7 linked regions of the Homo sapiens genome follow. Changing the gene in region 6 together with the main gene of any one other region gives a genetic interaction. Each region holds a gene or a part of one and is shown on either strand. Other genes may lie near its edges.

Evidence for each region.
Region 1: changes in CDH1 (region 6) and CAPRIN1 together harm fitness more than expected from each alone (negative genetic interaction), as found in Homo sapiens cells (one large-scale study listed by BioGRID).
Region 2: changes in CDH1 (region 6) and GPR61 together harm fitness more than expected from each alone (negative genetic interaction), as found in Homo sapiens cells (one large-scale study listed by BioGRID).
Region 3: changes in CDH1 (region 6) and SLC18A3 together harm fitness more than expected from each alone (negative genetic interaction), as found in Homo sapiens cells (one large-scale study listed by BioGRID).
Region 4: changes in CDH1 (region 6) and DDX19A together harm fitness more than expected from each alone (negative genetic interaction), as found in Homo sapiens cells (one large-scale study listed by BioGRID).
Region 5: changes in CDH1 (region 6) and TMEM204 together harm fitness more than expected from each alone (negative genetic interaction), as found in Homo sapiens cells (one large-scale study listed by BioGRID).
Region 7: changes in CDH1 (region 6) and PPP2R3C together harm fitness more than expected from each alone (negative genetic interaction), as found in Homo sapiens cells (one large-scale study listed by BioGRID).

What each region holds. Positions count from the first base shown.
Region 1 is NC_000011.10:34,086,231-34,089,730, reverse strand, and holds part of CAPRIN1 (caprin-1), read right to left. Parts: intron 3,427-3,500; coding exon 3,318-3,426; intron 337-3,317; coding exon 275-336; intron 1-274. UniProt on the Homo sapiens protein: mRNA-binding protein that acts as a regulator of mRNAs transport, translation and/or stability, and which is involved in neurogenesis, synaptic plasticity in neurons and cell proliferation and migration in multiple cell types.
Region 2 is NC_000001.11:109,538,489-109,542,671, forward strand, and holds the start of GPR61 (G-protein coupled receptor 61), read left to right. Parts: upstream 1-1,383; 5' UTR 1,384-1,465; exon of another isoform or gene 1,466-1,579; intron 1,580-3,933; 5' UTR 3,934-4,183. UniProt on the Homo sapiens protein: Orphan G-protein coupled receptor. Constitutively activates the G(s)-alpha/cAMP signaling pathway. Shows a reciprocal regulatory interaction with the melatonin receptor MTNR1B most likely through receptor heteromerization.
Region 3 is NC_000010.11:49,608,928-49,613,109, reverse strand, and holds SLC18A3 (vesicular acetylcholine transporter), read right to left. Parts: upstream 2,801-4,182; 5' UTR 2,370-2,800; coding exon 771-2,369; 3' UTR 390-770; downstream 1-389. UniProt on the Homo sapiens protein: Electrogenic antiporter that exchanges one cholinergic neurotransmitter, acetylcholine or choline, with two intravesicular protons across the membrane of synaptic vesicles.
Region 4 is NC_000016.10:70,360,403-70,363,902, reverse strand, and holds part of DDX19A (ATP-dependent RNA helicase DDX19A), read right to left. Parts: intron 2,486-3,500; coding exon 2,393-2,485; exon of another isoform or gene 2,267-2,392; intron 1-2,266. UniProt on the Homo sapiens protein: ATP-dependent RNA helicase involved in mRNA export from the nucleus.
Region 5 is NC_000016.10:1,540,166-1,543,665, reverse strand, and holds part of TMEM204 (transmembrane protein 204), read right to left. Parts: exon of another isoform or gene 2,941-3,500; coding exon of another isoform or gene 2,925-2,940; intron 2,683-2,924; exon of another isoform or gene 2,173-2,682; coding exon of another isoform or gene 2,148-2,172; intron 1,746-2,147; coding exon 1,590-1,745; intron 1-1,589. UniProt on the Homo sapiens protein: Can influence paracellular permeability. Appears to be involved in cell-cell interactions through adherens.
Region 6 is NC_000016.10:68,810,292-68,813,791, reverse strand, and holds part of CDH1 (cadherin-1 isoform 1 preproprotein), read right to left. Parts: coding exon 3,451-3,500; intron 2,109-3,450; coding exon 1,933-2,108; intron 1,658-1,932; coding exon 1,529-1,657; intron 480-1,528; coding exon 297-479; exon of another isoform or gene 230-296; intron 1-229.
Region 7 is NC_000014.9:35,104,991-35,108,490, reverse strand, and holds part of PPP2R3C (serine/threonine-protein phosphatase 2A regulatory subunit B'' subunit gamma), read left to right. Parts: intron 1-254; coding exon 255-352; intron 353-1,116; coding exon 1,117-1,187; intron 1,188-3,500. UniProt on the Homo sapiens protein: May regulate MCM3AP phosphorylation through phosphatase recruitment. May act as a negative regulator of ABCB1 expression and function through the dephosphorylation of ABCB1 by TFPI2/PPP2R3C complex.

The sequences.
Region 1 (3,500 bases), on a different chromosome or scaffold from region 6:
ATTTGCTGAATTCCAACAGAAGACTTGGACACTGATGAAATTCTTATTTTCTTTCATAAGCTAAGAAAGAAACCAAGGAACCAATTAAAACAAAAGTGAAAAAATATTTTTTAATTATTTTTTTAAAATAGAGATGGTGTCTCGCTACACTGCCCAGACTGGTCTTGAACTCCTGACCTCAAGTGATCCTCCCATCTCAGCCTCCTAAAGTACTAGGATTATAGGTACGAGCCACCTAACCTGGCCCTGAAGAAAATAGTTTTATCACTCTTACCTGTGTCGCTTCTGGTTGTACAGGAACTTGATTAGGCTGAGCAAGTCTAGATTCAGAATGAACTGCAAAGGTGACCAAAACATTTTTGTCAAACAAAATTAAATTTTTAGAGAGACGCGTCTAAATACCTTTTATTTCGCTATTAAAGGCTTTTTTTTTTTTTTTTTTTTTTTGCGGGGGGGGGGGGGGGGGGAGTGTCTCACTCTGTCACCCAGGCTGGAGTACAGTGATGTGATCTTAGCTCACTGCAACCTCTGCCTCCCAGGCTCAAGTGATCCTCCCACCTCAGCCTCCCAAGTAGCTGTGACTACAGGTGTGTGCCACCACACTCGGATAATATTTGTATTTTTAGTAGAGACAGGGTTTCGCCATGTTGCCCAGGCTGGTCTCAAACTCCTAGGCTCAAGCAATCTGCCCACCTCAGCCTCCCAAAGTGCTGGGATTATAGGAATGAACCACCATGCCCAGCAATTAAAGGTAAATTTCTATAGCCAAACCATAAATAAACTTTTTAGCAATCATGAAAGTAAATTGGGAAATGCAGATAAAATTTTAGCTTTCAAGTGAGCATTTTGGTTTACCGGCAGTGGTTATTATTTAATAGTTTACTTTCACAATTGGTTTCATCTTGTTTTTTCCAAAAGTAAAGTAAAATGTTAATAGAATGCACTAACAAATAATCAGTGCCATGAAAAAAGACTTTTAAAGCTGTACAATAAAGTGGCATTATTCATACTCTAGACCTCAGACAGATAGTATTCCATTTTGACCTTTTGTTTCTTCTGAAACAGGGTCTCACTGTGTTGCCCAGGCTGGAGTGCAGTGGCGCCATCATAGCTAACTGTAGTCTCAAACTCTGGGCTCAAGAAATCCTCCCACCTTGGCTTCTTGAGTAGCTGGGACTATAGATGCATGCCACCCTGCCAAGCTAACTTTTTTATTTGACTAATTTTTAATTTTTTTGTAGAGGCGAGGTCTATGTTGCTCAGGCTGGTCTCAAACTCCTGGGCTCAAGTGATCCTCCCTCCTCAGCCTCCCAAAGCACTGAGATTACAGGCATGAGCTACCATACCCGGCTCAATATATGTTAACATAACCAACTTTCAATTTCAAGTGTTTCTAGAGAAAAAGAAAATTTAAAATATGTACTTTTCGGCCAGGCACAGTGGCTCATGCTTGTAATCCCAGCACTTTGGGAGGCCGAGGCGGGTGGATCACGAGGTCAAGAGATTGACACCATCCTGGCCAACATGGTGAAACCCCATCTCTACTTAAAATACAAAAATTAGCTGGGTGTAGTGTGGTGTGTGCCTGTACTTTCAGCTACTGGGGAGGCTGAGGCAGGAGAATCCCTTGAACCCGGGAGGCAGGGGTTGCAGCGTGCCGAGCCAAGAATGCGCCACTGCACTCCAGCCTGGCGATAGAGCGAGACTGCGTCTCTAAATAAACAAATAAATAATATATACTTTTTAACAGCCTATATTCAACTCAGCATGCATCTTCTTAACAATTCCCATCACTCTCTCACCTCCCTTCCCAACAATGATTAAACAGATAATCAAAACGACGATCTTTGGTTAGTCATTTAGAAAGTACCCATTTTCACTGGAGAGTCTAATGGACTCAGCATTATGTAAATAACTAAATAGCCTTACAGGTTTTATCAGTGCTATGTATACTGACTTTCACACAACTCCCCAGCTGAGAAAACGACTTACTCTCTTCCTTTGGTAGAGCTCAGAAAATGAACACTAAAAACCATGATTGCTCTCTTGTAGGTGTCACCTTTGATCTGTTTTCTAAAACTCTTGATAGAAATGTGAGAGCCGGGCGCGGTGGCTCACGCCTGTAATCCCAGCACTTTGGGAGGCCGAGGCGGGCGGATCACGAGGTCAGGAGATCGAGACCATCCCGGCTAAAACAGTGAAACCCCGTCTCTACTAAAAATACAAAAAATTAGCCGGGTGTAGTGGCGGGCGCCTGTAGTCCCAGCTACTTGGGAGGCTGAGGCAGGAGAATGGCGTGAACCCGGGAGGCGGAGCTTGCAGTGAGCCGAGATTGCGCCACTGCACTCCAGCCTGGGCGACAGAGCGAGACTCCGTCTCAAAAAAAAAAAAAAAAAAAAAATGTGAGAGATATGAGCTCCCTTTACTTCAGAAAAATCCTAACTACCTTACACCAAATTAACTGTCATTAAACATACTTTTACTCAGCAATTTATTTTATGATATTTAACATCATGCAACATTAAATAGGTTATTTTATTTAGTTCCACTTTTGTGCAACTAAAACTGATGTGTTCTGGGAAAAACCAAGATGACTCACAATCACTAATAGTCCTGGAGAGAAGGTCCACTTAACCCAATGGAAGGCACCAACTGTATTTAGTGCTACTACTTCAAATAATGGTGTAAGTCCAGAAAGAGTCTGAAACTGTCTTGTGGTTTCTCTCTTCCCTTTGCCTCTTACATATTCCCTTACCCACTTCATTGCTGTGTATTTTTTTAAGGTAATAAAATCCAGAAATTCTCCTAGAAAGCTAAAAGCATTCAAAAAAAGGCACCTCTATTATTTTTACTCCTAGATTAATTTTGAAATTTTAAAAGCCAAGCAAAATTTCACTTGTTAAAGTTACAAAAACAGACAAAACTGGTCTATTACAGTTACAAGTACGGAAGTGGTTGCTATCGCTAGGGGTGAGGGTAACTAGTGATTGAAAGGAAACAACGTAGGTTTCTGGGGTACTGGTAATGTTTCATTTCTTAATCTAGCTGCAGGTGTTTTCAGTTTATAAAAACTCATTAAACTTGCGTATATTTTTCTATATCTACATGCCAATGAAAAGTTTAAAAATAAACAGTTATAAACTACATTTTTAATTCAAATCATAGGAACAATAACATTCTTTCTATCAAATTAAAAGACCTAAGAGTCAAAATTAAACAGTCATTAAAATAAACAAAATTTATTTTCACAATCTTTTTAAAACCTGAAAGTACTGGCCTTATATTTCTCTCTCACATAAAAATGTACCACTACTAACCTGGAGGGCAAACCAGCTGGGGCATGTCCATGTTTTGTGTTGGATTCATAGGCTGTGCAGATACAATGGCAGGATCAAGTGTCTGATTTTCAAAATCCAGCATTGAATCCTACAGGTTAAGTTAGGATAGAATAAAGTCAAATAATATAAACACTTAAACTTTCTGTTACAGAGTCTGACTAA
Region 2 (4,183 bases), on a different chromosome or scaffold from region 6:
ACTGTATGTAAAGGGCCTGGCACTCATAACAGCTCAAAAAGTGGTGGCTGGTGACAGCGGCACTTGCTGCATCGGCTCTTGGTTTGTCAGTGGCCTCTTTGTTTTTGACCTGGGGCTTGGGGCAGCCAACTTGTCCCAGTGAGGTCCTTGGGTAACTCATTGTTCTTATGGCTCTTTGGGTTGGGTCTGGTAAACAATTCCAGAATTCCCTTTTTCCTTCTTAGAGGCAGAAGGAGTCCCTAGATAGGCAAGTCTCAGGGAAGCAGGCTCTGGAGTAGGGGATCATGCCTGAATTCCCTGTTTAGACTCATGGCTCTGCCATGTGGAGCTATGTGGCTTTGAGCAATCTCTTTATCTCTCTGGGTCTCAGAAACATGGATACCTTGGCCTGTAGGATGTCCTACAGCTTTGCAATGTTAGGATTCTATCCTTGGGTATCAGTCATGTACCCGGGTAAATGATCATTTTCTTCATAGCTAGAGGGAGGCCATGCCCCTTCATTGCGTCTCTGAAGGCCCATCATGCCACAGATGGGCGATGCTCAGTGGCTGATGCTACCTAGCTCTGTCCAGTCCCACAAATCCAGATCAGTGTGAGCATTCCTGAGTCCCTGGCCCCCACTCTGTCTCCTTCAGGAAGCAGTGTTGTGGTGGTTCCCATGGTGGCTCGGGGGGATGTTAGATCCTCCCGCCCCCTCCCTGCCAATCTCCATCAGCCCTCACAGCCCCAGTTCCAATAAACATACAATCTAAGCAAATAATAATAATGTGCTTTTGGGAGGCAAGGGCAGGGTTAAGACAAAGCCTTCAGCTGCCCTTCAAACCTGAGTGCTGCTCCTAAACCTGTCCCCCATACGCATTAGGCAGCTTCCAAAGGGGCCAAACCTTGGACCATCCCCTGGAGCCTCAGCCGCCTCCCTGGCCTAAGCCTTGGGGCCCTGGGTCTGCGCTGACCTGCCTGCATCAGCACCTTGGTTCTGATGTCACACAGAACCATGCATCTCTCCTATCTTCTCTTTGAACTGCTAAGAAATCAAGGCCAAAATGCAACTTGCCCAAGGTCACACGGCTAGTAAGTGCCATAGCCAGGCCTTAAACCTGGATTTTCTGACTCCATGTACTTTTTTTTTTACTTCATCAGGCTGGTCAAGAGGGTCTCCCCTACCTATCATTTCCTGGCCCCACGAAATTTTTGAGACGCAATCCAGCAGCCTGAGAGAAGTGAGAGGAGTTGAGCTCACTGCCAGGCACCTTGCCTGGGGCATTGGTGCCCACCTTTTTGCTCCAGAAGTGACTCTGAGGGGCTGGGTGGGAAGCAGGAGGCCATTAGGACCCAGAGGCTCTCGGAGCACTCTGCTTTGCCGGCTGCCTCTCACCGCTCACTGCAGTGCTTCAGGCTTCAGCAGCCTTGGAGAAGCATCAGCTGAGAGGAGCTATCACATGGGAGCCGGGACTGCTCAGCAAAGGTAGGAGTTGCCGACTAGGCCAGGAATGGGGGCCAGACCCAGAGCCTGGTGGTGAGTGCCAAGGTATCCCCACAGAAGGGTGGCTTTCCAAGGACCAGCCCTGCCTACATTCCGGTGAGCAGTTTGATCAGGAGATGGGCTCTCAGGTATCCCAAAGGCGGTATTGGGGTGTGGGCATCTCTGAAGCCCAGAGCTGGGGGGTTGATCATCTCCTGCCGGCAGGAGTACCCACATCCTGCAGACAAACAGCATTCTCCATCTGTCTTGCTCCATGTCATGGACATGGGTCTCCCACATTCTAGGAATGGGCCCTTCAGCATACAGGCTGATGGGCAACTGTGTCCTGGGCGTGGGCAACTCTGCTGAGGAGAGGTGTTGTAGCTCCCTGGAAATCTTCCCTAGCTTAGGAGGGGCACGCTCTTGTCTGAAGGAAGGCCAGGCTCAGGTCTTTGGGATGGAAGCTCTGGATCTGGAAAACAGGTGCATGTGAATCCCAATACCTCTGTGGCCTTGGGCTGGGCACTTATGCACATCTTGCATCCTGTAACTTGACCATGCCCCTGCTAGAGGCCCAGACCTCAGGCCCTAGTGGCAAAGCCTTCTAGGTACTGAAGGTCCTGGAGGTAAGAGGGGTGCTGTTGGAAGTAAGTAGTGGGGGAAGGAAAGCATCTGTTGGGGGAGTAGGCATAATGATATGACCTGGGAGAGGAGTGAGGCTCCCTGGGTTTCACCTATGAAACTGTTACACCACAGCCCTCCCCTCCATAACCCCAGTCCATTAGTGAGGGAGTGCCCATTAGCCAGATACACTGATCTGTCTGTTAAGAGGTAAATTGGAATCCTGGCATTTAGGAGTCACTGTGGAGACACTGGCAAGCTTGAGGGAGCTATGAAAAAGAGCAATGTCCAATGCCTTCTTGCTCAGGGCTCCATCATGGCTTCGTGGCATCCCTCCAGCTCCACGTGGAAACCAGGTCTGCTTCCCTCCGTCTGGGACTCTTGATGTCCATCCAGACATGGTGGGCCTCTCCTCCTTCAGCCACCAGGGAGGGACTCTGAACCACATCCTCTGGGCCTCACTCACAGACAGAAGGGATAGGTAAATCAGAGCATGGAGAGTAAGAAGGAAGGATGCTTCTCCTAGCATTTCTTTCAGGCATTTTTCCTGGTAGACTCTAATGAGAAGCTGATGTCTCACTTTTGTGCCCGCTCTTCAACTTCTCTGCAGACTCTAAGTCTCTGTGGGCATCTTAACTGTGAAATGAGCTTTCTGTGTCCCTAGAGAGAGGCACGTCTCTAGGCAGTTGCCCAAAGTTAGGGCTTCCTCAAGTCCAGGAACCCCGGCTACCCTTTCCACAAGAGAGTCCCTTGGCTGGCACACAGCTGGCTGACTGAGTGTTCTTGGAGTTTGTCCTAGGGGGCAGGGATTCAACTACCAATTTGAGTTTGATTCAATTCACAAAATTGTATTCAGCACCTATTGCATGCATAGCATGTTAGAAGTTGGATTGGTGTAAGGTTTATGGAAACACCAAAAACCAAAGGTGACTGTAAGGCTATAACTGTGGAGGAGAGTGGGGCCCATCTTGCCATGTGATCCTCTTTATTGCAGCCATAGAAATGATGGGTTTTTAAACTGAGCAACCTCAGTGTCTCCTCCCTACTTCTTGTTCTGTGACTGTAGTAAGTCTAGAACCAATGCGGCTCTTGGTCAGGGATCCTCCAAGGGTCAGCTCCAGAGATCAGAGATTTGGGGATCTGGGGAGCAGGAGGTTGGCAGCAGCTCCTTTCCCACAAGAGGGGCACAGTGGCCTTGAAGAGTTCATGAGTGGGTGGAGAAGGGCAGCTTGAAGCAACTTCCGGCTTTGGGAGCAGTGGAGGCTGGATGAGCTGGCCTCCCAGTTTCCTTCCAGACGGGACATTTTGTTTTCACTGCTCCTACTCAACATTCCCAAAGTGGCAGCTCTTTGTGCTGGGAGTAGTGATGTCAAAAGAGCCTAAAGCACAGCTCCCCTTTTCAGATGATAACCCTAGGGCAGCAAGAGACAGTTTTAGAGACAGCTGAAATTCAACAACTATTTACTGGATGCCTATTATAGTCCAGCCGGCACGGAGGGCACCTTCACATATGGCATGGCACAGTGGGCAAGAGTACTGGACCTGGGGCCAGACTGCCCAGGTAGGTGCCCAGCCCTTGCCGCTTACTAGCTGTGCGACCTTGGGTAAGTTACTTAACCTTTCTAGACCTCAGCTTCATCTCTTGCAAAATGGAGATAAAAATATTATCTACTTCATAGGGTTGTGTGAGGAATAAAATGAGTTAATATAGGTAGAGTGCTGAGAACAGGGTCTGGCATGTGGAAAACGCCGTATCAATGCTACTGCTTGTCATTAGTATTATTATTAACAAATCACGCAGGATCCAGAAACACAGTTGTGAAGCAAGTGTTCTTCCTTTCATTTTACAGATGGATTTATGAGGAAACTGAAATTCAGAAGATTCACAGAGTTAGTAATGCCCAGAACTGGGACTAGAAACTAAATTTTGTGCTCCTTCTACTCCCCAGCAGCTCTTGCCATTCTGAGGAGACAAGAAATCAGGAAATTTACATAAGGAACCCTAAAACTGAGGCACTATCCCAGAGATCAGCAGGACCCTGGGAAGGAGAAACAGGATTTAGAATCCCCGGCTAACAGTTCTGGAAAGGGTAGAAGGGT
Region 3 (4,182 bases), on a different chromosome or scaffold from region 6:
GGATTCTGGTCTGAAGGGAAGCTCAGCCCAGGCACCTCAGAGCTCTGAGGCTGGTGTGGGGCGTGTCCTCAAAGGGCGGGGCCTGGCGTGCCTAGCTGGAGCGGGTCCTCAGGCTCCCCCGGGCGGCATCCCCGGGCTCTGCGCTAGGCCTGGAAAAGAGGGTCTATCCTGGGCTGAGGGGAGCATGGTGCTCCTTGGTGACCGTGGGTGACAGCCTTTGTTGGGTTTGCTTCCTTCCTATCCCCTTTTCCAGGTAGAAAAACAGCTACAGGTGCCTACGTGTTAGTTTGGCTTAGGTCTGGATTGGGACTTGGAGACCCAGTTCACCCTCCCCTCTGCTCTGGCCCTGCGCGCCTCCACGCACCCCCCACCAGTAAAGAGACTCGGCCTCCTGGGACAGACACAGTTTATTGATTTGGGCGGAGGCGCCGCGGTGCAGCGGCCCAAGTTTGGCACTGGGAGCAATGGAAGGAAGGACAGACAGATGCAGGCTCTACACAGGGGAGCCGCAGGTGGGGACTCAGGGTCCTCTTCACCTCCGCAAGGAGCGCGATGGCTTCGCTGGCCTCGGTGCTCCAAGCCCCATTGGACAAGAGAGAAAGGGATATGGAACGGGTCACAGGGAGGGGATTTGGGCAGAAGTCAAGGTTGAGGAGTGGCTGGGGTACTCGCTGGAGGAGGTGGGCCCTGAGCCAGAGCTGGCCAGTGGGCTTGCAGAGCAGCCCCCTTGACCCAAGGCGGTTGGGTGGGCTGGAGGAGGAGTGGGGATGCTAGCTGCGGGTGTAGTAGTAGTTGTAGTCGTCCTCGCACGCATCAAAAGGGCCAGGCGGGCTGCGAGGCTCGCCGTCCTGGCCAGACACAGGACGCTCACGCAGGCGCACCGCATCGTACAGACCTTGCGGTGGCTCATCAAGCAGCACATCGCGCTCGGAACGGGAGCGCGTCAGGAGGCCCACGTTGCGGAGCAGCAGCAAGACGGGAGCATAGAGCAGGTTGGCCAGTCCCATGCCAAGGCTGAGCTGCTCAAAGCCCAGCGAGTGCACAATGTGGCCTGCCACTATGGGCCCGAGCGCGTAGGCCACCGAATAGGAGATGTCGGCGATGGCGTAGACGCTGCCATAGACTGAGACATGGCGCACGTCCACCAGGAAGGCGAGCGTGGGCAGCAGTGCTGTGTCGACTAGGGCTATGCCAAAACAGAGGCCGCATAGTGAGACCACTAGCGGCGCGAAGGAGCGGCAGGCGGGCACGATGCACGAGCTGGCGCCGATCACAGCCAGCCCAAGCGCGCCGTACAGCCACTGCAGGTGTGGGTAGCGCGCCGCCAGGCGCACGGTGAGGTAGACGCCCAGCACATGAGGCACGAAGGCCGGCAGCCAGGCCATGCCCATCTCCCACTCGGAAGCCGCCATCGTATGCTTCATCCACGTGGCAATGGTGGGTTCGAGGAAGGCGAGGGGAATGTTACAGGTGGTGAGCGCGCCGGCCACCACGGCAATGTAGGGGTCTAGCATGAGGCGGTGGATGGGAGTGCCCACTGGCAGGTTGGCCCGAGCCCGTGCAGCCGCCGAGAAGGGTTTGGCCACTGCCAGCAGCAACAGCGCGTCAAAGAGCGACACGGCAGCTAGCACCAAGAAGGGCACGCGCTTGCCGGCGAACTCATAGAGGATGCCCCCGAAGGGCGGGGCCACTAGGCTTCCGAAGCTAATGAAGGCCAGCGCCACGCCCAGTGCACGACTGCGCTCCGGCTCCTCCGGGTACTTATCGGCGATCATGGCTATGCCAGACGTGTCGGCGAAGGCTGAGCCCAGGCCCTGCAGGCTGCGCGCCGCGAACAGCGTGGCGTAGTCCTCGGCGAAGGCGAACAGGACTGTAGAGGCGAACATGACGCCCAGGCCGATCAGCAGCGGCACGTCGTAGCTCATGCGGTCGATGAAGGGCCCGCTCAAGGGGTTCACTAGCAGCTGCAGGATAGCCTTGGAAGCAAACAGCACCCCGATCTTCACGTCTTCGCTCTCCGTAGGGTAGCGGGGCCGAAGGGCTGAGCCCGCTGGCCACGCAGCTGTCGGGGACGCCGAGGTGTTGGCCGTGTAGGCGCTGGCATTGGCCGGAGTGGGCAGCGGCAGGGTGGGCTCCCACACCTCGGGAGTCCGGGTGGGGCCCTCGCCGCCCCCGCGCATGTGGGCGATGTAGTCGGGCACTATGGGCACGATGACCATGTACAGCATGTTGTCCAGTAACAGCGCCACGCACACGATAACAAGCACCAGGCGCCTCTGCCGCCGGGGCTCCTGCAGCGCCGCGCCCACAGCCTCCGACAGCTTGGTGGCCGCCGCCCGGGCCTGGCCCGCAGGTTCCGCGGATTCCATGCCCCCACCCCGATGCTCTTCCGAGGACGCCTCCGCCAGGGCCGAGCGCTGGCGTCCCGCAGTGCAGAGGCGAGGGCACGGGACTTCGGGGAGGCTGTCCTGGCCGAGCAGACTCCCCTGTGCCTCAGGTGGCCGCGGAGCTCATGGCCCAGCGTCCCGGGAAAGGAAAGGACTCCGTCCGGCGAGGCGTTGCAGCTACTCTTAGCCGATCCCGGGACCCGCGGCTGCTGGGCTCAGGGGCGGCCGGGAAGTCGGGCGCGCCGAGGGGCCGGGGCCGGAGACTGGGCGCACTTCGCCCGGGGCGCGCCCAGAGCAGCCCCCGCCGCGCTAAGAGGCCGCCCGCGCTGGCCGAGGGACATGCTGTTGCCGCCCGCCCGCTTGCCCGCCCGTTAGCCCCGCCGCTGCGCTCCCCTCCCCTCGCGTCGGCTCTTGCCTCCTCCGCCGCCTCCTCTTTTTTTTTCCCTTCCACTCGGGGCTGTGACGCGGCGAGTCCCAGCCCCCGAGTGGTGCCCGGGCCACTTACGTCGCTCATGCTAATGCGACGTCGGCGGGGCGGGGGCCGGGGGCGGGGCGTGGCCGGGCAGGGGTCCGCTCTCCAGATGCTCCAGGGCTGGAGGCCCAGGAAGGGCTCTCGGTGTGGAAGTCTTGAACCAGCCCCTGGGATGGGCGTTCCGCGCCGGTAGCTGGCCCTCTGCCCCCCGCCCCCTGCCTGCCCCCCGCCCGCGGTTCTAGGACTCGCGGGGTCAGCGCCCGCTCTTCTCCTCTTGGGGAAGGGGGCGCGGCAGCCGGTTCCTCGAGGCCCCTTGGGAGAGGCGGGAGCCAGAGGCTTGCGATCTCCGCTTCAGCCTGGACCTCGGCGCACAGCGAGCAGGAAGCCCCCGAGGTGAGCCGCCGCTGCGTCCATCTGTTCTCGCAGCTGGATTGTGGAGCCGCGTCCGGAGGAGCGCTGGACACGGACACCCCCAACCCTTTCTCCGACTCCGCCCCCTGGCCCCTTGCACACACACTCCCGCCAGGAGGGGAGGGGAAGGCTCAGCAACTGCCTGGCCTGGCTCTGACCCACCGGCCCCTCCGCAGAATTTCTCGGCCGCGAATCGCGGCCGGGAGCTTGTGGGGACTGAGGGCAGAAGTTGCCGCGCCCCAGTCGGGGTCGCGAATATTAGCCTGGCCGCTGCCGCCCTCCCGCACTGCCTGGCCACATTCCCCTTGCCTGGAATCCCCCTTTCTCCTTTAGCGGTCTGGTCCCCCAGCTCCGCCTCTTCTCTCCCCGCCGCCGCACCCCCTCCCCACTCTAACTCCTCCCAGGCACTCTTCGCACCCGACCAAGCCCTCCCTCGGCTCCTGCCAGCCTCCGCCCCCTGTTCTGCACACTCCCCCATCCCTCATTTTCCAGAGCCTCCTCCAAGCCCCGGGTGGGCTCTGGAGTGACTGTGGCTGGGGTCCTCTCTTGGAACTGTAAGAAACCCTTCTTGGGTGCCGCGCCCACTCCCCGGAGAGCGCCCAGCCGCTTCGCTGTCGTCAGGGGCTCCAGGGAGACTCACCTTCCTTCTGAGAGGGCCGCACCCCTTGAGGCGCCCGTGCTCAGCTGACAGGCTGAGCTGCCCAGGCTGTGCGCTGGGCCTGACGCGTCCCCAGAGCGGCGTTGACCCTGGATGGCACATGGAACCCGTGTTCCAGTGGGCGGACTGGCGGGAGAGAGGCTCCAGGGCGGCTGAGGTTGGAGGTGGGGATTGTGTTGTTGAGATTACGGTTTGCGTCTCTCTTCCAGAGTCAGAGGGGAGCCTTCCCATTTTTCTGGCCTCAAAAGTAAAGC
Region 4 (3,500 bases), 1.6 Mb from region 6:
CCGGGCGTGGTGGCGGGTACCTGTAGTCTCAGCTACTGGGAAGGTTGAGGCAGGAGAATGGCATGAACCTGGGAGGCGGAGCTTGCAGTGAGCAGACGTTGCGCCACTGCATTCCAGCCTGGGCGACAGAGCGAGACTCCATCTCACAAAAAAATAAATAAATAAATAAATAAATAAACTAAGGTGGGCAGATCACTTGAGGTCAGGAGTTCGACACCAGCCTGGCCAACATGGTGAAACCCCACCTCCATTAAAAATACAAAAATTAGGCTGGGTGCGGTGGCTCACGCCTGTAATCCCAGCACTTTGGGAGGCTGAGCCAGGCAGATCACGAGGTCAGCAGTTCGAGACCAGCCTGGCCAACGTGGTAAAACCCCATCTCTACTAAAAATACAAAAATTAGCCAGGCATGGTGGCAGGCACCTGTAATCCCAGCTACTCGGGAAGCTGAGCCAGGAGAATCACTTGAACCCGGGAGGCGAAGGTTGCGGTGAGCTGAGACCGCGCCATTGCACTCCAGCCTGGGCAACAGAGCGAGACTTCATCCCAAAAACAAACGAACAGACAAAAAAATACAAAAATTAGCCAGGTGTGGTGGTGTGCGCCTGTAATCCTAGCTACTCAGGAGGCTGAGGCAGGAGAATCACTTGAACCTGGAAGGCAGAGGTTGAAATGAGCCAAGATTGCACCACTGCACTCCAGCCTGGGCGACAGAGGAGACTCCATCTCAAAAAAGAAAAAATGATAAATATGCCAGGTGCAGTAACACATGCCTATAATCCCAACACTTTGGGAGGCTGAGGCTGGAGAATCACTTGAGGCCAGGAGTTTGAGACCAGCCCTGGCAACATAGTGATACCCTGTCTCTACAAATTTTTTTTTTTTTTTTGAGACAGAGTCTTACTCTGTCGCCCAGGCTGGAGTGCAATGGTGTAATCTTGGCTCATTGCAACCTCTGTTTCCTGGGTTCAAGCGATCCTCCCACCTCAGCCTCCCTAGCAGCTGGGATTACAGGTGTGCGCCACCAAGCCCGGCTAATTTTTTTGTATTTTTTGTAGAGACGGGGTTTCACCATGTTGGCCAGGCTGGTCTCAAACTCCTGACCTCAAGTGATCCACCTGCCTCAGCTTCTCAAACTACAAAAAAGTTTTTTTAAAGTCAGCTGGGCATGGTGGCACATGCCTATAGTCCCAGCTACTCCGGAGGCTGAGGTGAGAGGATTAATTAAGCCCAGGAGGTCGAGGCTGCAGTGGGCTGTAATTGCACCACTGCACTCTAGATGGGGAAACAGAATGAGACCCTGTCTCAAAAGGAACTTAGTCTTGTCAGGGTGGGAGAAGGATGTGGAAGGAGGGGAATTCAGGGGCTTCAACTATCAACTGGACCTGCTTCCTTTCTTGGCAGGATAGGGCTACAGAGGTGTTCTTGGTATTGTTCTTTACACCTTTGTGTAGGTCTCAAAAATTTCCAAATAATATTTTGTTTGTTTTTGAATTTATTGCAACACCATTCACATCAAAATAATATTTTTTAAACCCAGTTTTTTTTTTTTTTTTTTTTTTGAGACAGAGTCTATGTTTCCCAGGCTAGAGTGCAGTGGCATGTCTCGGCTCACTGCAACCTCTGCCTCTGGGGTTCAAGCAATTCTCCTGCCTCAGCTACATGACCACAGGTACGTGCCACCATGCCAGGCTAATTGTTGTATTTTTAGTTTAGTTTTTTTTTTTTTTTGAGACAGGGTCTTGCTGTCACCAGGCTAGAGTACAGTGGCACCATCTCGGCTCACTGCAACCTCTGCCTCCCGGGTTCAAGCAATTCTCCTGCCTTAGCCTCCTGAGTAGCTGGGACTACAGGCACATGCCAACAGGCCTGGATATTTTTTTTTTTTTGATTTTAGTAAGACGGGGTTTCACCATGTTGCCCAGGCTGGTCTCGAATTACTGAGCTCAGGCAATCCGCCCACCTTGGCCTCCCAAAGTGCTAGGATTACAGGTTTGGGCCACCGTGCCCAGCTAATTTTGTATTTTTAGTAGAGACAGGGTTTTGCCATGTTGGCCAGGCTGGACTCAATCTCCTGACCTCAGGTGATCCGCCCGCCTCGGCCTCCCAAAGTGCTAGGATTACAGGAGTGAGCCACCATGCCCGGCCTTAAGCCCAGTTTTTAAGATAGCATGGAATAAAGCACTACCTTTCTCTATAAGTTTCTATTGTTAAGTGGGAAAGGCAGAAACTGTAGCTAACTCCATCCGATTCTCTCTGCACTTGCCTAAGCTGTATTCCTGAGGAAACACGTGGCCCCAAACAGCTCCTTCTGTTCTCAGGCACAAAAACGCAGTTTGGGGAAGATTGATCTAATCACACTGGGTGAGATGCGCTTCATCTGCATACTCACGGTTCAGCAAGCATCATGGGTAATGCGTTCTCTTGTATCTTGGAGGGTCGATTGAAGCCCATGGCATAGACTCCCTGGAGAAGCTGTGGTTTCCTAGGAAGCCAGGAAGACAGAGGATGGATGCCTAGAAGTTAGAATTGTTTTAGAGGCCTAGAATCTTATCTTTTTCTATAGAAAGGAATGATGCCTCCTACCTCTGTCAGACGTATTTTCCTATGCCTTAAAAAAACACTGTCAAAAACCAAACCAAATCAAACCAAGCTACCGCCCTTCCCTAAGGAATCTTAATCTGCAACTATTCTATAATTCATAAAATACAGAATGGTTTCTTTTCTTAGAGAAATTAATGCTTTCAGCAGACCCGCAAATCTGGCTGGCCTTGGAAGACAAGTGTTCCCTGGACACAGCAAGGGTGGTGGTTATTAATTCATAGCATTACATAAATTATAAAAGATATATCTAAAAACAGGTCAGGTACAGTGACTCATGCCTGTAATCTCAGCACTTTGGGAGGTCAAGGCAGGCCAACTGCTTGAGGCCAGAAGTTCGAGAACAGCCTGGGCAACATGGTGATACCTCGTCTCTACAAAAAAATACAAAAAATAGCTGGACACACCTGTAGTCCCAGTTACTCAAGAGGCTGAGGTGGGAGGCTCACTTGAGCTCAGGAGGTCAAGGCTGCAGTGATCTGTGACTGAGCCACTGCACTCCAACCAGGGTGACAGAGTGGGACTCTAAAGTAAATAATAAATGAAAATAAACACTATTTACTATACTGCTAAGATTTAGAAGTCCTTTTGTTCCATGTTCCTTCCAAAGCCAGCTATGCAAATACTCCAGACAATCAATAGGTAAGGAAATTGATGGGCTGGGCGTGGTAGCTCACGCCTGTAATCCCAGCACTTTGGGAGGCCTAGGTGGGACGACTGCTTGAGGAGTCCAGGCGTTCAAGACCGGCCTGGGCAACACAGTGAGACCCTGTCTCTAAAACAAAACAAAACAAAACAAAACAAAAAAGAAAAATGAGCTGGGCATGGTGGCATGCACCTGTAGTCCTAGCTACTTGGGAGATTGAGGCAGGAGGATTGCCTGAGGCTAAGAGTTAGAG
Region 5 (3,500 bases), about 67 Mb from region 6:
CCTGTCTCATTCGTTCTTACAGTCAGTTGGGTGGGGGCAGAAATTACCCTTTTCGAAGTTGGGCATGCAGAGGCTCACGTTAGTTTAGTCATCTGCCTGACCCCACGTCGATGGTGATGGAGCCAAGACACAGCTCCAGTTCCAGGCTCCACGCCCTGTGCTCTTCCACTGAAGCCTCGAGGCCCCTCCCTTCCCGCCCCTACCCGCCAGGGGAAGTGACTTGCCCAGGGCCACGCCATGCTATTAATAGCGCTCAGAGAGCCCGGCCTGACTCGCTCAGGGCACTTTCCAGCACAGGAATACCTGCCCCCACAGTCTGTCAGCCTCCTTCTGGAAATTGTATTTCTTAAGAAAGATAAGGGCCCAGGATCATTATTCCTAGAATGATTCACTCTGGACTTCCTGCCACTTCCTCTGTGGGAACTGCAGGGCAACCTGCAGAACGCTGCACCGGCCTCGAGGAGGAGAAGGAGGGTGCGGGCAGCTCCGTGCTGGTCATGCTCAGCCATGGGCCGACATGCTCGCTTTCTCTGTGTCCCTGTCTCTGCGGGCACCGGGCTGACCTGTCCCAGTGAGCAGCAGGAGACCTGAGCCTGCCCCAGATGCCCACAGTCTTCAAACCTCTCAGTCAGCCACAGAAGACCAGCAGAGCCCCCTGGGGTCGCTGGGGGTCATGGCTGGACACTGCTGTGGCTCAAGCACTTGTCTAGAACACCGCAGGACCCTTCCATAGGTCGTTGACGACAACTCCATCACTGTCACCCTCTATGACGCCAGGTCTTCTCAAGACCTGTCCCAGGTTGCTGGGTCTAGAGCGTTGAGAGGAGGCTCTGAGCACCAATGGCCCCTCGCCTGCAAGGCCGGGCCTCCTCCCCAACTCACATGGCGGCTTGGGGAAGCCAGGGCCTCGTGATGGTCCTGCCGTCTGCATCAGTGTCCGAGCCAGGCACACAGCATGTGCTCGTGCAGGCACCTCACTGTCGGCTCAGGCAGTGTGGAACGTGCTAGCGTGTTCTCACTCTGTCTTGTCCCGCTCACGGAAAGGGCCTGCGCTGACCCCAGGCTGACCCCAGGCAGGTCCTAGGAAGCTGCGTTTATAACAGAGCACATGCCTTGGCCTTCCTAGGCCTGACCTGTTCTAGGCCTCTTAGCTGGGAAGGTCAGGGCCAGGCATGGGCTCTTCTGCCTCTGCCCAGGGGCTGCTCCCCACCAGCTGCCTCAGCATTGAGGAAGGGGCAGGACCCAGGCTGCCCCATGTGGACTGCACAAGGGCCAGTCAGCAATCAGACCCCACAGACTCAGGAAAGCAAAGTGCCTCAGCCTTTAAAGTGGAAAAGGGTGTGACAGACACGCCAGGTGGTCGCAGCCTCCCTGCTCCTTGGCCTGGGTGTGTTTCTGTCTTTCATCATTCTTGCCTACAGCAAGAGGGAGGGAGGATGCCCCATGGGGCTTCTCAGTGGCCTGTGGCCATGTTGAGAGGTATGGCCTGCAGCTTCCCCCCAGGCCACCCAAGGCCTCAGGACCCTCCTGTGGCACCAGAAGGCCACAGGGGGCAAGGGCGCGGTGGCCACACCCGCCCAGGTACTTACTCGCCAGTTGGAATGCAGCGGCCATGGCCTCCTCCCAGCACGGGGCGTCGGGTGACAGCAGGGGCAGGCCCACCAGCCCCAGGAGGAAGGTGAGCTGGCCTGCGGTGAGCGCGGCCGTGGCCACCAGGTTGCAGGCGCGCATCATGTCGAACTGCACTGTGGGCCAAGAGCAGAGAGGCAGTGGTGAGTGCAGGTGGGCTCCAGAGGCCACGCCAGCCGTCACGCCACTTTCGTGGTCTCTGTTTGCCTCGGAAAGGGCGGTCGGCACAGGCTGTGCCTCCATTGGGCAGTGGCTTCGGGAAGCATCACGCCCTCCCCCTCACCTGCCTGCAAGCCCTGGGTCCCATGTCTTCCTGATGGGAAGGGTTCATCCCAGCCGCCGGGCCTGGCTGCAGTGGTCGTATCCCTGCAGGGACGGGCCCTACTCTGCTATTTCTGTCTTCCTGAGACAGCTGTTCCTCTCTGCCTGACTTGACCCTTGAAGGCGCTGGCGTGGGGGTGGAGGTGGGAAGGGGAAGCCCACCAGCAACACCGGCTTCCCTGTCACTGAATTCACAGCATCCAAGACGAGGGCGCTGCCTGACCGGAGACTCCGCGGGGGGCCAGCTCCTCAGGCGTGCTGTCCTGCGTGCTCAGCTGCCCGACCCCCAAGCGGCTCATGGTGGTGTTCCCTCCTCCCAGCAGCTGAGGGACTTGGGACCGAGGAGAAGCAGCTCATCTGGGCCCCTCATAACCAGCAAGGGGCTGAGCAGGGGTCAGACATGGGTCTGAACCAGTGCCCCCCACCTGCCCCCCTCACCTCCTGGGGCCCCGTCACCCCATCTGCCACAAATCTTTCACTCAGTGGCTTAAGTCAGGGCCTGCTTCCCCACTCACAGCAGGCCTGTGCCCAGCCTTCTCTGTCCCCCACCTACACCTGGTTGCAGGAGCCAGGTGGGCAGGGCACATGGATGCGTGGTCAGGGGCAGATGGAGCCTTCTGTGAGTGAACTTCAGAGGGAGGTGCGTTTGTTGCCCTCAGGGACCAGGGCTCGTCACGTTTCTGTAGCAGAGAAATGTTCTCCCGCAAATAAAACCTTACACAGGGGCCCAAATGAGGTGGTGGTGAAGCAGTGTGTTCCCAGGCCCCTGCACGCTGCAGAGCAGACAATGTGTGTGCTGACAGACACTCAGCCTGGAGTCAGGGACTGCATGTGAAGCAACAGCCCCACAGAGTCCCTAGCCTGTCATCGCCATGCCTTGTTTTCTATTGAACAATATTTGGGAAATTCGATTCCCAAAACTAAGTCGTTATAAACAGTTGCACCTTTTTAAATGACTTGCCTTGAAATTTCAGGGCACTCTTCAGGTAACTGATGCAGGAATCTAAGAGGGAAGCAGCCTCACCACTCAGGAGCGGGTCCCCGCGCCCGCATCCATCACAGACACCAGAATCCAGGCTCAGGAGCAGGTCCCTGTGCCCGCATTCATCACAGACACCAGAATCCAGGGAGCAGCAGAATGTCCCAAGAGCCCTGAAGGTGCTGGCCTCTAGGGTGACTGCTGTGTGTCCTGGGTGGAGGCCGAGAGGGGATGGGGAGATCCTCAAGCTGCCTCCTCAGAGCACGCCTGTGGGAAGCCAGCCCAGCAGGGGAAGCTGTCGAGGTTCACGCGTGCACGGGGCAGGCACGCTGGCATCAAGGCTCAGGGGTGGTGGGGGATGCGGGCTGCTTTACTTCGTGAGTGTTTACGTGGTTAGAAGTATCCGTTGGAACCACTATTGCCAGTATTAGCAATTCCACACGGTTCAACCTCAACATTTATTGAAATGCAATCTGGATTCACAGAATAACCTCAAAGCTCTGGAGCCGAGGCATCTGCTTCCCACCTGGCCCTTGGGCTGGGTGCTGCTCCAGCGCTCACATCTGCCCCG
Region 6 (3,500 bases):
CCTGGCTAATTTTTGTATTTTTAGCAGAGACTCAAACTCCTGACCTCGTGATCTGCCTGCCTCAGCGTCCCTAAGTGCTGGGATTACAGGCGTGAGCCACCACACACAGCACAGTTTCTTGATTTCTTACATGAGCAGGAAGAGCCACTGCAAATCCCACATGGTCCACTACAATCTGGGAAAGTCACCCTGTCCCCCTGCCAAAGCGAATCTACTTCTAAGAAGATACCAGGGGACAAGGGTATGAACAGCTGTGAGGATGCCAGTTTCTGCATCTTGCCAGGTACCATACAAACCTTTGCTGTTTTCAAAATGCCATCGTTGTTCACTGGATTTGTGGTGACGACAAATTGTCCACCATCATCATTCAATATGGTGTATACAGCCTCCCACGCTGGGGTATTGGGGGCATCAGCATCAGTCACTTTCAGTGTGGTGATTACGACGTTAGCCTCGTTCTCAGGCACCTGACCCTTGTACTGCAGAGCAAAGAGATGTGTCATTTACAAAGTACCAAGACTGCTAGCAGAGCTGAGTCTCAGGGGGCTAAAGGATTCCTCTTTTTTTGTTGTTCTTTTGAGATAAGATCTCACTGTCACCAGGCTGGAGTGTATTTGAGCGATCATGGCTCACTGTAGCCTCAACCTCCTGGGCTCAAGCAATCCTCCCACCTCAGCCTCCAGAGTAGCTGGGACCACAGGCATGCACCACCACACCTGGCTAACTGAAAGCAAGCTTCAAGGAGAAGATGTGACAAGGAGAGGCCAGGCAATGGGCGCACTGGGGTGCAATGGTACAATCTCGGCTCACTGCAGCCTCCGCCTCCTGGGTTCAAGCAACTCTCATGCCTCAGATGCCCGAGTAGCTGGGATTACAAGCATGCACCACCACGCCCAGCTAATTTTTGTATTTTTAGTGGAGATGGAGTTTCGCCACGTTGGCCAGGCTGGTCTCAAACTCCATCCTCAAGGGATCCACCAGCCTTGGCCTCTCAACTTGCTAGATTACAGGTGTGAGCCACCACGCCTGGCCATTATACAGGATGATTTAAACTTACCCTACTTGGTTCTCAATACCTTCTCCTTGAATGCATGTAATATCCTTGGCATACAATAATTCTCATAAGATGTCTTCCTGGCTATACCAGAAACACCATGAGAATGGAATCTTTGTGTGTGATGGTCTCTCCAGTGTCTAACACAGTGCCTAATATAAACTTAGAAAATATTTGTTCAATAAAGAAATGAAACCAGGTAATATTTGCTATAAAAATGTACCATGAGACTATGAAATCAGTAGGTGCTTTTTGCAACTTCACAATCTTGCACCAATTGGCCCCAGGCCAAGGGTGGAAAAAAGATACTAAAAGACAACTGCCATCTCAAGATGCTTGCTTTTAAGTTTAAAGTTAACATTCTCTAGTCTGGAGAGAGTTTTCAAAGACTTCGCCCATGAGCAGTGGTGACACTTAGTTCATGAACAACAAAAGACCTTTCTTTGGAAACCCTCTAAGGAGTTATAGAATTACCGTGGTGGGATTGAAGATCGGAGGATTATCGTTGGTGTCAGTGACTGTGATCACAGCTGTTGCTGTTGTGCTTAACCCCTCACCTTGAAGGTCAGCAGCTTGAACCACCAGGGTATACGTAGGGAAACTCTGCAGAGAGATCGACACAACCAAGTCAGGACCAGGAACACTAGCCACCTTTGGCCTAGCCCAGCCCAACACATGGAACCAGAATATTTAACCATGTGCTTCATGCCAGCCTGCCTGTCTTCTAGGCACGGAACCTCTGGGCACAAGCTTAGATGCAAAGCTTAGACCATCACTGTATTAACTGACAACTGGCCTAGCAGGATTTTGCTTTGTCCACGGGATTGAGCTAATACACATTTGTCCTCCACACCCTCTGGATCCTCCTGACCCCTGACCTCTCGGTCCAGCCCAGTGGTGACCACACTGATGACTCCTGTGTTCCTGTTAATGGTGAACATATTTTTGTCAGGGAGCTCAGGATCTTGGCTGAGGATGGTGTAAGCGATGGCGGCATTGTAGGTGTTCACATCATCGTCCGCGTCTGTGGCTGTGACCTCCATCACAGAGGTTCCTGGAAGAGTTCAAGGAGATGAAGGTTTAGACAAGCTGCACTTTGGGACTGGGTCAATACTGCTTAATCCAATTCTGCCCTGAGGGATAAAGGAGGGGACATGGGGGTGGTACCGTGTCAGAGTTCCCTAATTCCTAGAATTCTTACCAAAGTGCTAGGGGAGAAAGAAAGCTCAAACTATCAACTTATTATCCAGGTATAAATACACAAATGGTAATAAAGAAAAGAAAGGGAATGATTACCACAAAAGTCAGGGTGTGGTTATCTTTTTTTTTTTTTTTTTTTTTGAGACGGAGTTTTGCTCCTGTTGCCCAGGCTGGAATGCAATGGCGTGATTCGGCTCACCACAATCTCTGTCTCCCGGGTTCAAGCAATTCTCCTGCTTCAGCCTCCCAAGTATCTGGAATTATAGGCATGCGTCGCCACGCCCAGCTAATTTTCTATTTTTAGTAGAGACAGGGTTTCTCCATGTTGGTCAGGCTGGTCTCAAACTCCTGACCTCAAGTGATTTGCCCACCTTGGCCTCCCAAAGTGCTGGGGTTACAGGTGTGAACCACCACACCCAGCCTAGGGTGTGGTTATCTTTATGGAGGAGAGAAAAGAATGTGACCAAGGGGGATTGTTTAGGGCTTTAAGGTACTGGTAAAGATCTGTTCCTTAATTAGGAAGGTTGTTCTTAGCCAGGTATAGTAGCTCATGCCTATAATCTTAGCAGCTTGTGGGGCTGAGGTGGGAGGATTGCTTGGGCCCGGGAGTTTGAAAGTAGCCTGGACAACAAAGCAAGACCCTGTCTCTGAAAAAAAAATTTTTTTTTTTTTGAGACGGAGTCTGGATCTGTCACCCAGGCTGGAGTGCAGTGGCGTGATCTCAGCTTACTGCAACCCCCGCCTCCCGGGTTCAAGCAATTCTCCTGCCTCAGCCTCCCAAGTAGCTGGGATTACAGGCCCCCGCCACCACGACCGGCTAATTTTTTTGTATTTTTAATAGAGACGAGGTTTCACCATGTTGGTCAGGCTGGTCTTGAACTCCTGAGCACAGGTGACCCATCCACCTTGGCCTCCCAAAGTGCTGGGATTACAGGCATGAGCCACCATGCCCAGCCTAAAAAAAAAAAAAATTAATAATAAAAAAGGGAAGATTGTTCTTAAACTCTCCCTATTTTATATGTTTCCACAGGTAGACTGTTACACACATGCATATAACACAACAATGGCTTGCCAAGAAGTTCTGTCCGTAGGAAGGATCAGCTTTAGTTACACAACCTTTGGGCTTGGACAACACTTTGGGGTCCAAAGAACCTAAGAGTCTTTCTGAGTATTCAGATTCTCATTAGTGGATATACCTGGAAGAGCACCTTCCATGACAGACCCCTTAAAGACCTCCTGGGTGAAT
Region 7 (3,500 bases), on a different chromosome or scaffold from region 6:
ACTCATGATGTGCCTGCCTCAGCCTCCCAAAGTGCTGGGATTACAGGCAAGAGCCACTGCGCCTGGCCAAATCTCCATTTCTTTTAAAAAAAAAAAAAAGTTTGACTTAATATTTTAAGTTTTTGAATTATAAGGAGTCTCTATTGTTCTTTCATTTTTAATTGTATGAATTTATGCCATTGTTTGCTAATTTATGTAGAAGTCATTTTCTTTTATGTTGGCAGATCATTTAAATCTTTATTTTCTTTTCTTAGGCAATTTTTCACAGCAAAAGTCTTTGCTAAACTCCTTCATACAGATTCATATGGAAGAATTTCCATCATGCAGTTCTTTAATTATGTCATGAGAAAAGGTGATTCATTTTTACTGTGCTTGAACTCCTTATCTGGGAATCAAGTAGGTTTTTGGTCTGTGCTTTTATAAGTATTTCTTCTATGTGAAATCACTCTAAGTTTGAATAGTAGAATTTCTTATCTTTTGACCAAGATGTGTTACATAAACTTGGGTTAGCATAAAAAAACAAAAATTTTTTAAACCCTCATGTGTCTTAAAGATAATAGTAGACTAGAAATATTAAGAGCTGAACCAAGAGTTTTAATGTATGGTAATTTGAAATAATTTTAATTTACTGATAATTTTATTTTACCAGTATATTACAAGTTGAGTTGACTGATAGTTTCAAACCCAAAGCTGTAATATCAGTTTCAAGGAGCATCAATTAAACAGCTTGGACTTATGATTCCTACAAGTGCCATAATAATCTGTGAAAGCCTATTGTATACAATCTTTAATAATTGGTTGCTGTAATTAACCTCAGAAATAAAAGCAGCTTCACTGAAGGCATAATATTATACTAGCTGTCCCTGTTTGGTGGAACACCAAGTTTAATTGGTAAAGAACAGTATCTTCAAGGTGTCAATTTTATTATAGCTTTAGTCATGGTAGAATTGTTGAACTCTTCCATTCTATGGTTTTTTGTTTCAAGCAATTTTGTGGTGAGAAGAAATGTTTTTAGAGTTACTAGATTAGCTTGTCTCAAATCTGGCTCTTTATCTCCTTTTTCATATCTGAAGGATAGATCTTAAGAATTACTTTCATTTTCTTGTTTATTGTCAGTTTGGCTTCATCAAACAAGAATAGGACTCAGTTTATATGATGTCGCTGGGCAGGGGTACCTTCGGGAATCTGTAAGTGTTAACCTTATAGATATTATATTAACTCTTATAGACACTAAAATGTAAACTGTAGTTATCACTGGGTGTTGGGATTACAGGCTGTTCTCATAATACTTTGTTTTATTTCTGTCTGTGTGTGTTTGTGTGTACATATTTAGTTTTACTGTAACAAAGCAACTTGTACACTTTCAACTTTTAAAATTGAACATCATCTTTCCAGTGAAACAAAAAACAAATTTAAAATAAACAAAATTACAATAGAGAATGTCAATTCCAAATAAGATCCTACAGGTTCTACTGATTCTCCCATGGAGTAGCAGCCTTCAAGTCATCATTAAGAGAGAATTTATGCTGGGTGTGGTAGCTCACACCTGTAATCCCAGCACTTTGGAAGGATGAGGCAGGCGGATCACCTGAGGTCGGGAGTTTGAGACCAGCCTGACCAACATGGAGAAACCCTATCTCTACTAAAAATACAAAATTAGCCAGGCTTGGTGGCACATACCTGTAATCCCAGCTACTTGGAAGGCTGAGGCAGGAGAATCACTTGAACCCAGGAGGCAGAGGTTGCTGTGAACCGAGATAGCGCCATTGCACTCCAGCCTGGGCAACAAGAGTGAAACTCCGTCTCAAAAAAAAAAAAAAAAAAAAATGTATTGGCTGGGTGCAGTGGCTCACGCCTGTATTCCCAAGGCCTGTACTCCCAGCACTTTGGGAGGCTGACGTGGGCGGGTCACCTGAGGTCAGGAGTTTGAGACCAGCCTGACCAATATGGTGAAATTCCATCTCTACTAAAAATAGAAAAATTTGCTGGGCTGTGGTGGTGCATACCTGTAATCCCAGCTATTCAAGGGGCTGAGGTGGGAGAATCGCTTGAATCTGGGAGGCAGAGGTTGCAGTGAGCCGAGATTGCACCACTGCACTCCAGCCTGGGCAACAGAGGGAGACCCTGTCTCAAAAAAAAAGAGAGAGAGAATTTATTTTAAAGGTGTCATTTTAAACTGCAAGGATGCCCCTTAAAAATCACAATTAAACATGCCAAAGGAAAAGCAACGTTGTCAAAATGCTCACTTTAAACTATCAAAACGTTTCAAACCTACCCTTTGCTGACCTATAACCCCATTTTGTAAAATTTATTTTCTTTTTTTAAATAAGAGACAGTAGACAAGGATGCCGGGCGTGGTGGCTCACGCCTGTAATCCCAGCACTTTGGGAGGCCGAGGCGGGCGGATCACGAGGTCAGGAGATCGAGACCATTCTGGCTAACACGGTGAAACCCCATCTCTACTAAAAATACAAAAAAAAATTAGCCGGGCGTGGTGGCAGGCACCTGTAGTTCCAGCTACTTGGGAGGCTGAGGCAGGAGAATGGCATGAACCCAGGAGGCGGAGCTTGCAGTGAGCCGAGATCACGCCACTGCACTCCAACCTGGGCGAAAGAGCGAGACTCCATCTCAAAAAAAAAAAGACACAGTAGACAAGGAGATGTTGGTAAATGCTAACTGTCCATATTCACATAGAGACATAGTATACTCTGCGCTCAATAGAGGAAAGCAGCTAGAATTCTATGCACGACTACACAAGGGCCTAGCACCTTCCAGCTTCCAGCAGAGCAAAGGGAACAGGTTTTTCTTTTTTTTTCCATAGACCTCGGTGGTGTTGATTCCATATAGTTTTTGTTGAGACACAGGATGTTTCCGTTTTGGGGTTTGGTTTTTTATTTTTATTTTTTTTAACAAATGACATGTGTTACTAAACAAATGTTTAATGTATATTGACTATACAAATTCCTTTTTAGATTCTTTTTCTTCAAACTTTAAAAAAAAAAGGCCTTTTGGCTGGGCGCGGTGGCTCATGCCTATAATCCCAGCATTTTGGGAGGCCGAGGTGGGCAGATCTTGAGGTCAGGAGTTCAAGACCAGCCTGACCAACATGGAGAAACCCCGTCTCTACTAAAAATACAAAAATTAGCCAGGCATGGTGGTGGCCACCTGTAATCCCAGCTACTCAGGAGGCTGAGACAAGAGAATCGCTTGAACCCAGGAGGTGGAGGTTGCAGTGAGCCTAGATTGTGCCATTGCACTCCAGCCTGGGTGACAAGAGCGGACTGTCTCAAAAAAAAAAGCCTTTTAAAGGGGAAAATAAAAAGAATGTAGCATTTTAACATTTAAAAATCACTGAAAAACGTTTGATTATTCATGAGTGATATTAATGTGTCACTATTTTTTAAAGGGCCAAGAATTCCACCCCCCCGCTTTTTTTTTTTTAAGAAAATATAAGAGAAGCCAGACACGGTAGCTCACGCCTGTAATCCCAGCACTTTGGG